2 separate regions of the Homo sapiens genome follow, and region 1 is linked to region 2. Evidence: fine-mapped expression QTL. A gene starts in region 2. The other region holds a variant in brackets. All regions are shown on one strand. Distances are between the middles of the regions. Region 1 overlaps C8orf44-SGK3 (C8orf44-SGK3 readthrough). Region 2 holds the start of VCPIP1 (valosin containing protein interacting protein 1).

Evidence for each region. PIP is the estimated chance that this variant, and not a neighbour inherited with it, causes the effect.
Region 1: its variant is the best candidate, but not a certain one, in a credible set for the expression of VCPIP1 in whole blood (INTERVAL, PIP 0.75).

The regions. Positions count from the first base shown.
Region 1 is chr8:66,831,281-66,834,310 of GRCh38, reverse strand. C8orf44-SGK3 (C8orf44-SGK3 readthrough) reads right to left here. Exons shown (of 19, transcript NM_001204173.2): 10 at 3,000-3,030. SGK3 (serum/glucocorticoid regulated kinase family member 3) reads right to left here. Exons shown (of 17, transcript NM_001033578.3): 8 at 3,000-3,030. Among named protein-coding and RNA genes, the nearest start is that of MCMDC2, 38 kb to the left of the region's middle. The variant T/C (reference allele first, on the strand shown) is at 1,577.
Region 2 is chr8:66,666,200-66,668,699 of GRCh38, reverse strand. VCPIP1 (valosin containing protein interacting protein 1) reads left to right here and starts at 1,469. Exons shown (of 3, transcript NM_025054.5): 1 at 1,469-2,500. The coding sequence starts at 1,742. C8orf44-SGK3 (C8orf44-SGK3 readthrough) reads right to left here and starts at 1,104. Exons shown (of 19, transcript NM_001204173.2): 1 at 999-1,104. C8orf44 (chromosome 8 putative open reading frame 44) reads right to left here and starts at 1,104. Exons shown (of 2, transcript NR_161217.1): 1 at 999-1,104. RefSeq lists enhancers at 872-1,381, 1,752-2,271.

The sequences.
Region 1 (3,030 bases), 170 kb before region 2:
AAAGCTGTCTGTCTCAATTCTTTCACTCTAAATTATATGAAATATTCATTAACATTGTGGCATATAGCATAGTTCTCATATTTTGTTATGCAGAATATTCCATTATATGACACACTACAATGTATCTACTCTCTTGCTGATAGATTAGATTATTTATGAATAATGATGCTATAAACATTCCTGTATATACCTTTCCTAGTGGATATTCATTTCTGTTGGATATGTAAACTAGGGAGTAGAACCAATGTGTCATAGGTAACGCATATATTCAGCTTCAAGAATTAACACCAATTTTCAACAGCATAAAAAACCAAACACCTGGCTGGGTGTGGTGGCTCACGCCTGTAATCCCAGCACTTTGGGAGGCTGAGGTGGGTGGATCATCTGACGTCGGGAGTTCGAGACCAGCCTGACCAACATGGAAAAACCCTGTCTCTACTAATAATACAAAATTAGCAGGGCGTGGTGGCACACGCCTGTAATCCCAACTACTGGGGAGGCTGAGGCAGTAGAATCGCTTGAACCCAGGAGGCAGAGGTTGCAGTGAGCCGAGATTGCGCCACCGCACTCCAGCCTGGGCAACAAAAGTGAAACTCCATCTCAAAAAAAATTCTAAACAGAATACCACAAAATAGTATTGGGAAAAATTAAAGATGAGCTACATTAACAAAGTAATATACCATGGTCACGGATTTGACAACACAATATTGTAAAGATGATAATTCTTCCCAAATTGATCTACAGAGTCAATGCCATCCCAATCAAATTCAAATAGAATTTCTGCAGAAATTGATATGTTGATTCTGAAATTTATTTATATTGATATGCAAAGGGCTAAGAATAGTCTCTTGAAGAAGAAGGGAGGACTTAATTCTGTTAGATATCAAGCTACAGGTGTCACAACAATGTGGTACTGGTGTCAGGATAAACAGATAGGCCAATGAACAGAAAATGAACAGAAATGCAATGTAGAAACAGAAACACAAAACTTAAAATCTAAAAAGAGGGTGGGCACAGTGGCTCATGCCTGTAATCCCAGCACTTTGGGAGGCCGAGGCAGGCAGATCACTTGAGGTCAGGAGTTCAAGACCAGCCTGGCCAACATGGTAAAACCCCGTCCCCACTAAAAATACAAAAATTAGCCAGACACGGTGGCGTGTGCCTGAAATCCCAGCTACTCGGAAGGCTGAGGCAGGAGAATTGCTTGAAGCTGGGATGCAGAGGTTGCAGTGAGCGGAGATCCCACCATTGCACTCTGCACTCCAGGCTGGGAACAGAGTGAGGCTCTGTCTTCAAAAAAAAAAAAATTCTAAAAACAGATCTGTGAAGGTGTAAATAGTGAATACATGATAAAGGTGGCCCTGCAGATCAGGTGGCCCATCAGATGGCAAAAAAAAAAACAAAACAAACAAAAAAACCAGTTTTCATAAACTGTATAAGATCAGCTGGTTATCCACATGGAAAAAAATGAATTGTGACGCTATGCCTCACATTATATGCAAGAACCAAATCCTGATAAGACTCTAGATCTAAACATGAAGTTTCCAAAAGATAATGACTTTTTTTTTTTTTGAGA[T/C]GGGGTCTTGCTATGTTGCCCAGGCTGGTCTTGGACTCCTGAACTCAAGTGATCTTCCTGCCTCAGGCTCCCAAGTAGCTGGGATTACAGGTATGTGCCACAATGCTTTTGTTTTTAATGACAGATAATGCTTTTGTTCTTAATGACAACTATGTCAAGCATTCCAATAGAATTTTGGGGATTTTGAGAGCAGGATTAATTTCTAACTTTCTATTGCTTATACTAGCACAATACTCAGCATGTAGCAGGTGGATAATATATATTTGCTGAGTGAATAAACATACATGGGTTTAATTGCATAGCCACAGTTTCTAGTCTCAAGGAAACCCAGAAAACAAACTAGAGTTACCAAAAGCTACAAATATAGCAAAATATGATTAAACACATACATATTCCATTTTTACTAAAGACTGAAGTACACTGTAAAAAAAGCACTTAAATATATTCGATGATTCTGATAACTTCATCTATGATACTTTCCTGTTAACCCTGGCCTTAAGTGATTCTCCTTCCTTGGTATGGCTATACTGTCAAGTTACATGATTCATCTGACACCATAAGAAAATAAGCAGGGTCTTTACACATTCGTTTCCTTCTCAAACTGTTATTTACACAGCTGCTCATTTTTGTCTTTCCAGCTTTGGCTTAAACAGCATGTCTTCTGAGAAGCTATGTAAGTGGGAATCTTCCCTCAGCTGCCTATTGTCCTTTGTCATTTCACCCTATTCTTCATTTCCTGCACTGCTGTTATTATTTGTACTTATTTACTTGACTGAATATTTTAAATTGACTATCCCCCCACCGAGATTGTAAGCACCACAAAGGTAGTAACCATGTCAATTTCCATAATTTTTCTAACCAGGGCCCAGAAGGGTATCTGGCACACAGTAGGTGTTCAACAAACACCTTCTGAATAAGTGAACTTTATTATAGAATTTGAGTAGATGCCTTTTCTCCCTAATTATTGTTAGTATTTTGAGGGTGGGGAAAGTATCTTAATTCCATATCCTGAAACCAAAAAGTCCTGTGGCTCACACACATAAAGCATAAATTCCTTAAGTACTTATTTACTGAATGAGAAAATAAAAACACTTTAGGCTGGGGATGGTGACTCACATCTGTAATCCCAGCACTTTGGGAGGCCAAGGTGGGAGGATCACTTGAGGAAAGAAATTTGAGACCAGCCTGGGCAAGAGAGCAAGGCCCTGTCTACAAAAGAGTGAAAAAATTAGCCAGGCATGCTGGTGTGTGCCTATAGTCCCAGCTACTCGGGAGGCTGAGGTGGGAGGATGGCTTGAGCCCAGGAGTTCAAGTGTGCTATGACTGCACCACTACACTCCAGCCTGGACAACAGAGTGAGACCCTGTCTCCAAAAAAAAAACCAAAACCAAAACCAAATAAAAACCTCACAAAACACTCTTACCTTGCCAAAGCTGCCTTTTCCAATAACTTTT
Region 2 (2,500 bases):
TCACTGCAAGCTCCGCCTCCCGGGTTCACGCCATTCTCCTGCCTCGGCCTCCCAAGTAGCTGGGACTACAGGCGCCCGCCACTACGCCCGGCTAATTTTTTTGTATTTTTAGTAGAGACGGGGTTTCACCATGTTAGCCAGGATGGTCTCGATCTCCTGACTTCGTGATGCATCCGCCTCAGCGTCCCAAAGTGCTGGGACTACAGGCGTGAGCCACCGCGCCCGGCCGGGATTTTTTGGTAAGCAGCAGCGTAAAAATCACTCTCAAGGTTTGAGATTGGGATCCAGCATAACTGGTGACTTGACCTTGGGCAAGTCACTTAATTCCTTTTAGTCTCAGTTTCCCTGATTGTAAATGAAGTCAACACCACCTGGTAAAGGTATTACAGGACTGGTGTGAGGATGAGATGATACATGTGAACATATTATTAAATATGTAAACTATAAGGCAATAGTAAGCAAATGCTAGTTACTATTCTATGTAATACAGGCCTAACCTTTCCTGCCTATGTCCTGATCTGTAAAAAGAAGACAGGTTGAGATCTGAATGTCTATCCACTCACTTATCAGCTGCGTGAACTTTAGCAAGTCATTTCCTTTCTGGGCCTGTTTCCTAAGAAGGTTATTTTTTAAGATCAAATGATATCGTGTTATGCAAATGCTGTCCAGACACATATTAAGAACTTAACACATGATGGCTCTTATTATTCTCTGGGGAGTAGGGTGGTAAAGAGCAAATGAAATTAAACCTAGTTAAGAGAATTTGTATATGCACACAAAACTCTACAGACATCCAAGGTACCGTTATTTGCACTGTAAACTGCCAAAACATGCAGGAAACGAGAAATCAAATGGCGCCTCAGTGATTCGCACTAGAGAGGGGGAGAAGGCAGAGCTTCCGAGAATCAACTGTTTTCCCCCTTATGGCCTCCAGCCTAGATTAGACCATTTATTCAACTTCCCAGCCCCCAATATCCCTGGACATTTATTTACTGTACCTTTTTCACTGAGAGCCTTTCCACTCCCCTCCCCTTCTAGTAGTCGTGAACTTCAGACCCTCGCTTCGACTCCCACTGCCATAACTGTTTTTAACCAAGCTTCCCTGAATCCTCCCCTCCGCCTAAGGAGGAAGTGCAGCTAGACGCACCGCACGGCATCCTAGGAAATGTGGTCTCTCAGACTCTTTGCCTTGGGCTGCAGAGTGGGGAAGACGACGAAGGAGAGCCCAGTAAAACTACAACTACCGGCAGGCAACGCGAGTCACCATCTTTCTTTCGCCCCTTTTCCTGTTGCCGTCCTCTTCCTCCTCTCCTCTAGCGCTGAACCGCTTGGCCTCACGGTACTTGTAGTTCCTTCTGGACTCAAGATCCTAGGGCTTGATGGCCAGCACAGAGGCTGGAAGACTCTAATTCCCAGAGGGCAGAGCGGAAGCTGCGCCTGCGCACACTCAATGAGGGCGTGTATGTCTGTGTCTGAGGGAGAGAGAGCGAGAGTGAGTGAGTGTGAGTGCGGGGTGGGGTGGTGGCCGTTACGTTCGGGGCAACGGCTACGGCAGTGGAGAAGTAAGAAGAGAAACAACGTCCGGCGCTTCCGCCTTCGCTTAGGAGGAGGAAGAGCTGGTAGGGAAAGGAAAGTGCTTCGCCCTGGGCCTGGACTGGACCGAGTCGGGTTGGTGGGGGTCTGGGCTATGAGCTTTTGAGGGTCGCCTGGGACGCGGAGCGAGACACGAGAGCCAGGAGCTATGTCTCAGCCGCCGCCGCCGCCGCCTCCGTTGCCGCCGCCACCTCCTCCCCCTGAGGCTCCACAGACTCCGTCGTCCTTGGCGTCGGCGGCTGCTTCGGGGGGGCTTTTGAAGCGGAGAGACCGGAGAATCCTTTCCGGGAGCTGCCCGGATCCGAAGTGTCAGGCGCGTCTATTTTTCCCGGCCTCCGGTTCTGTCAGCATCGAGTGTACCGAGTGCGGCCAGCGGCACGAGCAGCAACAGCTGCTGGGGGTTGAGGAGGTGACCGACCCGGACGTAGTGCTACACAACCTGCTGCGGAACGCGCTGCTCGGGGTTACGGGGGCACCCAAGAAGAACACGGAACTGGTAAAGGTGATGGGCCTTTCCAACTATCACTGCAAATTGTTGTCGCCCATATTAGCTCGCTATGGAATGGACAAACAGACAGGCCGGGCCAAGCTTCTCCGGGACATGAACCAGGGCGAACTGTTCGATTGCGCCTTACTGGGTGACCGCGCCTTCCTCATAGAACCAGAGCATGTTAACACTGTGGGCTATGGCAAGGACCGCTCCGGAAGCCTCCTGTATTTGCATGACACTCTGGAGGACATTAAGCGGGCCAATAAAAGCCAGGAATGTCTCATTCCAGTGCATGTGGACGGGGATGGACACTGCTTGGTGCATGCTGTGTCTCGGGCTCTAGTAGGCCGAGAGCTCTTCTGGCATGCCTTAAGAGAGAATCTTAAACAGCACTTTCAGCAGCACCTGGCCCGATAT